Linked DNA regions of Homo sapiens. The protein of the gene in region 1 purifies or fractionates together with the protein of each later gene. This does not show direct contact. Each region holds a gene or a part of one and is shown in the gene's direction. Other genes may lie near its edges. The genes, in order: CDCP2, EDEM1 and EHD4.

Region 1 (3,500 bases):
TATTGATGGCCTCTAATGAGTTAAATTTTTAAATGTAGAATATTTAAATTTTAATATCTTGTTAAAGATATTAAAGTCTGTGGGTGCTATCTTTTCATTACATTAAAAGAGAGCTTGAAATACAGCATAAGAATGAAATTTGCACCAGGTGCCAGCAGGTGCTCCAGGGGGCTGCTGGGGAGCCCCAGGGCACAGTTGGGAAGTCTCCGCGAAGGTTGTTAGTGTTGGAAGGGATCTCACAGGCTATCTAAACCTGCCCTCTCATTTCACAAAATCTGAGTCCCTGAGAGGGCCTTCCTAAAGTTACATGGCTGGGCCAGCACTGGGAAAAGACGCCAAGTCCTTAGATGCCCCATCCAGAGCCCTGGTCACACAGCCGTGCCATAGGGCGAGATGCTGGAGTCTCAGGAAACACATCCCACGTATGTCCTCCCTGCTGGTGACCTCCAGCAAGTCGCAGCATTCACCCACACTTGCCGTGTAGTTGTACTGGCCAAGCTGGCTTCCTGAGAGTTTCCAGCAGCATATTTTCAGACTGTGCTCAAGTCTGAGCCCAGTGGATCAAGCTGGTTCAGTCTTATGATTTCTAATGTTCCAATGAGGCTCAGAGAGGCTGGGTTACTTCCCTAGAGTCACACAGCTAATAAAAGGCAGAGATGGGAGACTACTTGTCTTCAGATGTCAAACCAAGCTCTACTTCATCAGGTCCTCTCTCTAAGTCTTGGTTTCCTCATCCATTAGGGAGGTTTGATCACATTCCTGAGCTCAGGCACCTCAGCCTCTGTGCCCCACTGGCCTCGTAGGAGTGGACAGTGAAGGTCACAAGGGTCAAGTGCACAGGATCCATAGTTAGTCTTCCTGGGTTCAAATCCCACTTTCCCAGTTACCAGTCGGGTGACCTGCTCTCAGGGCCCTGACCACATTCCCTGGGCCCTGCCACGTCGATGTGCTTCTGCCAACCTCCACAGTTCTATGCTGGAGGGCTTTTTTCTGAAGTCTCAGTAGGGCACTCCCAGCCCACAGCAGCCCTCTGCCTGCACTCTGGGGAGTTGGCATGTAAATGCCGCAGCTCCCTTGCTCCTAGATTGACAGAACTCTGAAGTATGTGCTTTACCCCGTCCCCAGAGTTCCCCCCAAGGTCAGCAGCTGACTTGAACACACCTCCCCTTCTCTGTCCTCTCCCTCCCTCCCCACCTGGGGGCCCCTGGATCTCCCAAGTAAACTCCTTGCACTCAAATCCTTATCTCAAGGTCTGCCTGGGTGAACTCAAACTCAAGTAAGCTACTGAACTTGTCTTTGCCTCCCTTTTCTTAATTATAAAATCAGAGAAACTGCAGCACAGTCCTTGTGCGGCTACTCTGAGGATTTGAACAGGCAGCATAGGTGCCAAATGCTGGGCCTGAGCACGTGCTACACTTGCTACTTGGGTAGCAGGTGCTTGCTGGATGGTAATGAGGCCCTAATGAGATACCTGTGGGGGCAGCATGTTGGAGTGTCTTGTTCCCAAGGGAGGAAACTGGGAGCCACAAGGAGAAAGAAAGGTCAGCTCAAGTGGGCTCCCTTGCAGATGTGTGTGGCGGCGTCCTGACTGGCCTGTCAGGGGTCCTCACCAGTCCTGAGTATCCCAACAACTACCCGAACAGCATGGAGTGCCACTGGGTGATCCGGGCCGCTGGCCCTGCCCACGTCAAGCTGGTGTTCGTGGACTTCCAGGTGGAGGGCAATGAAGAGTGCACCTATGACTACGTGGCTGTGCTTGGGGGGCCTGGCCCCACCCGTGGGCACCACTACTGTGGCAGCACCAGGCCCCCCACCCTCGTGTCTCTGGGCCACGAACTGCAGGTGGTCTTCAAGTCCGACTTCAACATCGGAGGCCGTGGCTTCAAGGCCTACTACTTCTCAGGTAGGAGGGGCTGGCGCTCCACCCTGAATCCTCCTGTGCCTACTGGGCTCCTGTCTCCCCATTACACTTGCAGGGGTCACACCTTTCTGCCCCCCGCAGCCTTGAGCTTTCTGCACTCTCTCTGCCTGGAATGCTCTAGCATACCCTTGGCCTATGCCAAGACATAAGCATGTCACCTCTGCGAAGACTTACTGTTTTACCAGAATTAATCCTTTTTTCAACTCCTTATATAAGTTTTTTACACTATGATCTAACATTTGTCACTTCTGTGTGTGGTTTGCATGTCAATCTCCCCTGTCTGACTGAGTCCCTTATGGGCTTATCTTTGTACCTGGCACATAGTAGGTACTCAATTTTCGTACAAATGAATGGATGAAGTCGTGGGAACTTTACAGTCTAGTTAGAGAGATTATAAGGAAACAGACAGCGCAAGCCATTATGATCTGTGCTATCCATCAGTAAGAATCATGGATGACTTCGTGGAGAAGAGAATTGAGCAGTACCCTGAAGGAGTTAGACGGAAGCAGAAGGGAAGGGCATTCCAAGCAGGAGGAACAGCATGTGCAAAGGCCTGGAGGGCAGAGAGTGTTTGGTATGCTCATAGTACATACCAAATGGGGCAGTGAGAAAAGGGGAAAGGCCAGGCATGAACCACATCATCTGTCAAGCCAGGGAGTTCAGAGGTAACTCTGAGGACAGGTATTGTGTATTATTATTGAATTCCTAACAGGGCCTACACCTGTGAAGGGGACTGTCAACTGGAATGCAAGTCCCAGCTTTCAGCTAGTTGCAGTTTAAAACAAGCTTTGGGATCAAGCATCCCAACTTTCAGATAGTTGGGATCAATTGTCTGGTGTGCTAGCCATGGTGCCCACAACCTGCTGGTGGTTTTTGGACCACTGTGGCACCTGCTGCCTAAGCTGTAACTGCAGAGAGTGACTTCTCCTCTCCCCTCACTGTTGCTCCTTCCACCTCCCCATCCCCCATCCAGGAGAATGCCAGGAGGTATACATGGCCATGCGGGGCAACTTCTCCAGCCCACAGTACCCCAGCTCCTACCCCAACAACATCCGCTGCCACTGGACCATCCGCCTGCCCCCGGGCTACCAGGTCAAGGTGTTCTTCCTGGACCTGGACCTGGAGGAGCCCAACAGCCTGACCAAGACCTGTGACTTTGACCATCTGGCGGCCTTCGATGGGGCCAGCGAGGAGGCACCCCTGCTGGGGAATTGGTGTGGACACCACCTGCCACCACCCGTGACCTCAAGCCACAACCAGCTTCTGCTTCTGCTGCACACAGACCGCAGCACCACCCGCAGGGGCTTCTCTGTGGCCTACATCGGAGGTCAGCTGGGCTGTGGGAGTGGGTCCACTGAGGGCGAAGGGGAGGCTTTGCAGCCTCAGTCTTTGCAGTCTCCTTCCTCCATCCCACCAGTTTGTCCTGCCCCCCCCATGAATGGTCTTCTCCAGCTCCTTCTCCATTGGCTACACCCTTGCCCACTCTCGGGACCCCTAAGACTGGACGGTACGGCTCCCGCTTGTTTCCACTATTGCAGAGCCTCCTTCCCCAGCTTCTAACTTCGTGAGTCCTCACCCC
Region 2 (3,727 bases), on another chromosome or scaffold:
AGGAGAGCCCAGGCAGGCCCTTTGTGCCATGTCTTGTCACTCTAGGAATGGTATCTCAGCCTGATGACCTGTGTCCTCTCCTTAGGTGCTGATAGGAGATGTGGAAGATGCCATCTGCCTTCATGCCTTCTACTATGCCATATGGAAACGATATGGTGCCCTCCCTGAGAGATATAACTGGCAGCTGCAGGCCCCTGACGTTCTCTTCTACCCACTGAGACCAGAGTTAGTGGAATCCACATATCTCCTCTACCAGGTACTAGAGTTGTGTTTTTTTTTTTTTCCTTTCACTGCCTCCCCTGACCCCAGCAGTTCATTCTTAATGAACATTTGCTGAGTGATTTAGGGTTATGTTGTTTCATAGTGACTCTGATTGAGTTACCCCCTATCCGTAGTCTTGTTAGTGTTCAGTGTCATTCGTAACTTCACAGGACAGAGAAGGCATCTGCAGTCAAATATGTTTTTAACCTAATATTCTACAAAGCTGAATCATGTTTTTACCGTAGGACTTATAACTCACATCTTTAAGTATTCATGAGGAAGATTTGGTACTAAGGTGTTTTCCAAATGTATGTGACCAGAAGACCCGTTTTTAGGATGCAATTCTGCATCAGTGTACTGTGGAGCCCCGGTCTGTGTAACAACTATTCAGACAAAAAGAAAATTCATTTTCTTGGTTGTAAAGGAAATCATCTTGGATTCATCTGGATGCCTGTTTTTGTTTAATGTTTGTGTTTGTGTGTGTGTGTGTGTATATATATATACACACACACACACACACATATATATGTAATAGTGTTCATCCTTTGTGAAATTACTTCAGTGGTAGAGGGAATGTGACTTTAACTGTGAAATGTCTTCTTCCTGACGGTTGAAGCCAGGTATTTATACTTCTGTGTATGCCATACATATATACACACTGAGAGTCCTCCTCCATCCACATGCACAGCAGCACGAGTGGTTAACTCACCAAGAAACTGGCCTTGGTGAAATTCAGTAGGCCGGTAACAGATGCCCACCGTGGGCCAGCCCTAGCAAGCAGGGCCTGAGTTTTAGAAACTCTGGTAGTGGGGAGTTTTAGAAACTCTGGTAGTGGAGCTAACACTAAGATTTGAATTTATTTATTCAACAATTTTTTTATACCAAATCCTTGCCGTTTGCTTCAGATGAAAAAAGGGGAAAGAAATCCTGTGAAACTGGTAGTAGTCCTCATGCCTAAAAAGGGACTTCATGAGTTTTAGGTAACCTCTCAAAAAAGGGAAAAGATAATAGCCACCTGTTTGGCCTTTCTGAGCCCAGTAGAAAGACTGTACACGGAGGATGGCGTGCCGGTTACTGGCTGATTTCTTCTCTTAAGCTTAGTCCTGTGGCCTGTGAGCTTACTCCTCTTTGTTTCTGTCACTGCTTCTTTCATGTTTTCCGTTTCTCCTTCACGTTGACAGAGATGTCTTGCACTCTTCAGCTTTACCCTCCGAAGCCACACCCTGTGCACTTTTAATCTGGAGACTGCTAACCTTGTTGTTTGTTGCTGCAATCTGGCACTAGGCATGAATTAAAGATCCCCAACTTTTAAACTGTTTGTTGGATAAAGGCTTATCTTCCCAGAGAAGTTTTTCTCTAGTAAAACCATCTAAGAGTATGTGTGAGAAGAGTAGGCAACTGAGGACTGATTTCTCAGGGTGATTAGAAAGGAAAGGGTGGCGGCCTCCTTTCATACTTCGGAAAGTCTTGTTCCCATCAGCCTTTCCTCATGGTGCCATAACTGGAATGGCGGCAAGGTCCTCTTTCCTGTGCCTGTGTCTTAAGTTTCTGGAGAGTTCTGAGGCAAGATAGAAATTGGATTTGTTCTCAGATATGGTGCTGTCAGCGTGGGCATTGTTTTGTTTCTAATCATGATGGCAACCAAAGTAGACTATTGTTCTACCCTGGAACAGATGGTCTTACCCCTGGCTAAAGTTAACCAAATCACAGGTACTCTTTGATGTGAACTGACGGAGTACCTTAGTCCTCTAACCATTGTGACCCTGCAAGATAAATGACCTGGGCCCTGTTTCTTCCTTTGGCTGGCGACTCGTCTCCATGGGGAAGCCCCGCAGTCACCATGATGTTTGTCGATGGCATGTCTTCCAAGCCCATGCTGGATCACATTCTCTCGTGTTCTCTCTAGGCAACCAAGAATCCCTTCTACCTCCATGTAGGAATGGATATTCTGCAGAGTCTGGAAAAGTACACAAAAGTCAAGTCAGTTTTCTAAGTTCCTACCTTTTTCTGTCAGCCACTTTTAATTTATTTCAAATTGTTTTGGGGAAATATCCTAGTTTGCATTTTAATTTATAGAACCAGGTCATTAATGTTACATTTACAGGGAAATTGCTTACCTTTTGGTGTAGTAGAACCTTTCCATTGTACTGAGAACTGCCCTTTCTTTTCCGTGAGGTTCTAGCAGATTATGGGTGTTCATTCTAACTTCTTTCCCCTAGTTATATAATAACATATACGCTAAAATGTTTAGGGAGTACAGAAAATATAAAGCAGTAGAATATTATCACTGTAATCTCCACATACAGAGAAAACTGTAGTCAGTATTGAAATGTATGTACTTATAATCTTTTAAATATTTTTATATATGATGTGTGTATATATGTATATATAAGAAACATACTCTATATTTCAATTTTGTGACATGCTTTTTTTTACCTGCTGTAAGTTTTTTTTTTTAAGTACTATCTTAAATAATAAGTCAATACTCAAATAATAAGTCAATTCTCAATAATAAGTCAATTCTACAAGTATTAGGACTAGAAATTTAAATTAGTCCTTTTACATTTGTTGCCGGTCATTTTCCTGGTGCCACGTTATGCTTCTGGCCAGCACCCCGCCACCACGCCCACACCCTCTAACTCACCTGATAATTTAGCAGCCAAAAGCACTTGCTAAGTAAATTTGCAAACAACCCAGGCTATAAAAAAGGAGAGCCCCTCAATGTAAACATAGTTTCATATGGTGTTGGATGACTGGTTGATTATTCTGATAAGAGAATGTTTCTGCTTCTTAAGTGAATCAGCAGGTGGGAAGGAAGAGAGGCAGGACTGACCAGATGATTGTTTTGTAGGTGTGGGTACGCCACGCTGCATCACGTCATTGACAAGTCCACAGAAGACCGGATGGAGAGCTTCTTTCTCAGTGAGACCTGTAAATATTTGTATCTGGTATGTGTGTTGCAAGATGAACCCAGGAATATTTAGTATTGCTTAGAGCAAGCATTCGCATAGTCTTCCATCTGACAGGTACTTACTGGCTAAAGCTATGTGCTGGACATTGTGCATTCCCAGGATGCAAACGCTGTCAGAACCAAAGGATATTACTATCTTCTTTCATGGTTTCCAACCTTGTTGAAAAGTCATTTGTCAAGTAAACCAAGAACTGAACTTATGATTACAAACTGTGGGAAATCCTGGTAACGATTGATACAGAACCAGTGTTAGTTCTGTATCTAACTACAGGTGGTCGGGGAAGACGCCTCTGAGGAAGAGAGCTGTGTTCATAATGGCTTCTCACTTCTCTTGATGTATGTGATCTTAGCCAAGACCTGCAGCTCAGCCTTGTCTCTGTCCATACACACATCCTCAGGCACATGAGTGAGTGAGTGTGTGTGTGTGTGTGTGTGTGTGTGTGTGTGTGTAGAGAGAGAGAATTTCTGGACCTGGACGAACCCTTTGGTATTACC
Region 3 (3,727 bases), on another chromosome or scaffold:
TTGAAGACACTTTTCATCAGATCTTTGAAGCCTGTCATGTAAAGCTCTAGGTAACTCTCGCAGTTCAGAGCCACAGAAAGTTTGTCTCTTGCAATAAACAAGTGTTTTCTCTCCTTAGACAGTGAGGGTCCCCAGGGGTCCCCCTGGGCAACTGAGCTCTTCTCCTTATACAGGCGGTAGTTTTCCTTAACCTTAGCCATCTGATGTGATTATTCCCTTCCTCTCCCTAACATATATATATACATATGTATATATATACATACATATATATACACATACATATATATACACATACATATATATACACACATACATATATGTATACACATACATATGTATATATATATATATGGGTCTAATGACCAGGCTGGTCTTGAACTCCTGGGCTCAAGCAGTCTTCCCACCTTGACCTCCCAAAGTGCTGGGATTACAGGTGTGAGCCACTGAGCCTGGCCCCTCTCTCCCTTTTAATGACTTGGCTTTTTTCTTTCTAATGACTTTATAGATTTCATGTTATCCTTTTCACTGTGTTATGTCAAGTCCTTTTTTAAACAATTGGAGTATCCTTCCTCCATTACAACATAAGCTCATTTAAAGCAGGAATTATGGCTTTTCATATTTATTCTGTATCCCCAAGCCCCAGAACAGGGGCTGGTGCAGAGTAAATGACAAATAAAAGTTGGTCGGGTAGGTGGATGGATGGATGAATTGTTGGCTGAATGGATGGATGGAGGGTTGGTTGAATGGATGGATGGTTAGTTGGAGGATTAGTTGGACAGGTGGGTTGTTGGATGGATGGATGGATGGATGGATGGATGGATGGATGGATGGATGGATGGAGTAACCAAGGAGAACCAAGGTAGGAAGGTCAGTTTCTACGGTGCCATCCACAGAGCCTCTGTGGCATCCTGTAGTCTGCCCCAGCCTGGTTGGGCAGTCACAGTGTTTCCCAGGCCCCCTCTAGAGCCTGTGCTTCTGCTGCTCTGTCTGCTGACAGGCTGCCTCACTCAACAGGTAGAGCTAAGATATGTCCTGACCTGGCCAGTGATACTCAGGCTTACCAGCTACGTTTATTCCCTCGTGCTCCCCAGCCCTACTCCCTGCTCTTACAAGTTCCAGCTTTTGCTTATTTGTCCATATTTTAGAAATGACAGTGGATTCATGATGATTATGTTGTATATGCAAGGTCTCCGTGGCCCTGCCTCGATACCTTCCTGGGGTAGCACAGGTGCCCCTGGTCAGGCCGTACTTGGTGGGGCTGGTCCTACGGGGTTCCTGTTGAGTAGCGCCCTCAGCTCATTCATAAGAGGTTAGAGCCACTAAGAAGCTGTCCTACACTACATTTTTTTACGTGTTCCGAAAACAAGGTATTTAATTAGTTGTTTTATGTAAACATAGTCCTTCTGTCACAGCTCTGTGTTCCAGCACAGAGAGCATTAGTCAAGAGCCAGGAGACAGGGGCTCTGCTTTGACTCTGCCAGACAGCCCCTCACAGCTCTCTGTAAAATGTGGTTCTAAATGCCTGCCCCTCCTTCCTCCCAGGATTGCTATGAAGATCGGCTGAAGTGTGTAGTGAAATCCCTTGAGAAATAGAATACTAACTCTAGAGCATTTTTAAAAAGGCAGGTGAAAGAAGGTTTCTCAGAGTCCTCGGAGGTTGCTGTCGCTCATGCGGCCACCAGCAGAGATTGGCTGCCATAGGAAAAACACTTGTTTCTTGTTCCAAAACAACCACTCCTATATGTGGTACATCTGGATGTGGGAAGCTCCCAAAGAGTGCACTCCTGAGTAGTGGGTGGGACGTCTGCCTGGGGCAGAATTAGTCTCCCTCCAGTGGCCCCCAACTGTTTCCCCCTGAAGAGACCACATGTAACCCATCCTGTGGTTTGTCCTTCTGCAGGAACAGCTTGAGAACTATGACTTCACCAAATTCCACTCGCTGAAGCCCAAGCTGATCGAGGCAGTGGACAACATGCTGAGCAACAAGATCTCGCCCCTCATGAACCTCATCAGCCAGGAGGAGACGAGCACGCCCACGCAGCTGGTGCAGGGCGGCGCCTTCGATGGCACCACCGAGGGCCCCTTCAACCAGGGCTACGGGGAGGGTGCCAAGGAGGGCGCCGACGAGGAGGAGTGGGTCGTGGCCAAAGACAAGCCCGTCTACGACGAGCTCTTCTACACTCTGTCGCCCATCAATGGCAAGATATCAGGTGTCAACGCCAAGAAGGAGATGGTGACCTCCAAGCTGCCCAACAGCGTCCTGGGCAAGATCTGGAAGCTGGCCGACTGCGACTGCGACGGCATGCTTGATGAGGAGGAGTTCGCGCTGGCCAAGCACCTCATCAAGATCAAGCTCGACGGCTACGAGCTGCCCAGCAGCCTGCCCCCCCACCTCGTGCCCCCCTCGCACAGGAAGTCCCTGCCCAAGGCCGACTGAGGGGTGGGCTGCAGAACGGGGTGGGAACTGGGGGACCTGGGCCTCAGGCCTGCTCCACCACTGACTCACCGAATGACCTTGGGCAAGGCACTGCCCTCTCTGTGCCTTGGTTTCCCCATCTGTAGAATGGGGAGGGTGGACACTGGAAACTAGATGACTTCTTTCACCTCCAAAATTCCCTTAGTTTCTATGAAAATATTGGGGGTAGGGGGGTGGATTAGGAGATTGAAGGGTTGAGAAGAAAGAGAAATTGTCCAAAGAGTCCTCAGAACCTGCCTGGAGAAATGCGCATGGGGGTGGGCCTGGTAAGTCCCAGGAACCACAGGAAGTGAGCTAAGGCTCACCCAGAGCAGCTGGGTCTCCAGGCTGCCTGGGCTTTTTGTCCTCATGAACAACTCTGGAGCAGCTGTCTGTCCCTCAGAGGGCACCTGGAGGCAGCAAAGATTATCTTATTTATTTTATTTTGTTTTCTGCTATATTTAGAGTGGCAAAAAAATAGAGCAGAGGGTTTCTGCTGTCTCCAGACTGTCTACCAAAGAGAAGGCGACAGATGCCTCCTGGGTTTGGAAGGGGGATGCACTGTGGATCTGCCATCCATTCTGCAGTCTCCAGCAGAGCAGGCAGTCAGGCCCCAGCGTGCCTCCATCCCAGTGCCCCGATGACCATCTGGTCAGCCCTCCCAACCTCCCTTCCAGGGGGCTTACCAGCAAAGCCATATTCGGCTAGGAATTTGGAATTCACAACCTTTATTAACCCCTGGCAAAACTTCCCGTTTGCATGTCAAATCACATTGAAGCCTGAAAATTAGCTTTTCTTACTGGTTTTTCCAATAAGTAATAGCAAAGCCCACTTATCATACTTAAACTACAGTAAAGAAAAGAGGTGGTTCTCTGCAGTGATCGTTTAGTGTGGCCCTCAAACATTAAATATCCCGAGGTCTCCTTGGTGGGTGGCAGGATTTAAATTCAATCAAATCCTGTCCTAGTGTGTGCAGTGTCTTCGGCCCTGTGGACACAGGTGAATGAGGGACCAGCCCTGCCCTGGGCTGTTGAGAAGAGATCAGTCCACCCAGAGTTAGACATTGTTTTTGTAGAAAACAGGCATTTATTATGTCTAGGGTTTTGTGTTTTTTTTTTTTCCTTACAGGATAAAAGCCTTTATACAGAAACAAAATGGAACCTTTCATATAAAACCTTTTCTTTAAAGGCTGTGTGGTTCGTATCATGAATGCCCATCACGAGGCAGGATTCGGGCACATACCTGTACTTCTGCTCCAGAGTGTGCGCTCCC

The links.
Region 2: the proteins of CDCP2 (region 1) and EDEM1 purify together in Homo sapiens (affinity purification with mass spectrometry; one large-scale study listed by BioGRID and IntAct). This does not show direct contact.
Region 3: the proteins of CDCP2 (region 1) and EHD4 purify together in Homo sapiens (affinity purification with mass spectrometry; one large-scale study listed by BioGRID and IntAct). This does not show direct contact.

Annotation. Positions count from the first base shown.
Region 1 is NC_000001.11:54,139,501-54,143,000, reverse strand, and holds part of CDCP2 (CUB domain-containing protein 2 isoform 1 precursor), read left to right. Parts: intron 1-1,567; coding exon 1,568-1,903; intron 1,904-2,894; coding exon 2,895-3,248; coding exon of another isoform or gene 3,249-3,481; exon of another isoform or gene 3,482-3,500.
Region 2 is NC_000003.12:5,208,008-5,211,734, forward strand, and holds part of EDEM1 (ER degradation-enhancing alpha-mannosidase-like protein 1), read left to right. Parts: intron 1-85; coding exon 86-256; intron 257-2,167; coding exon 2,168-2,241; intron 2,242-3,112; coding exon 3,113-3,209; intron 3,210-3,727. UniProt on the Homo sapiens protein: Extracts misfolded glycoproteins, but not glycoproteins undergoing productive folding, from the calnexin cycle.
Region 3 is NC_000015.10:41,899,355-41,903,081, reverse strand, and holds part of EHD4 (EH domain-containing protein 4), read left to right. Parts: intron 1-1,900; coding exon 1,901-2,437; 3' UTR 2,438-3,727. UniProt on the Homo sapiens protein: ATP- and membrane-binding protein that probably controls membrane reorganization/tubulation upon ATP hydrolysis. Plays a role in early endosomal transport.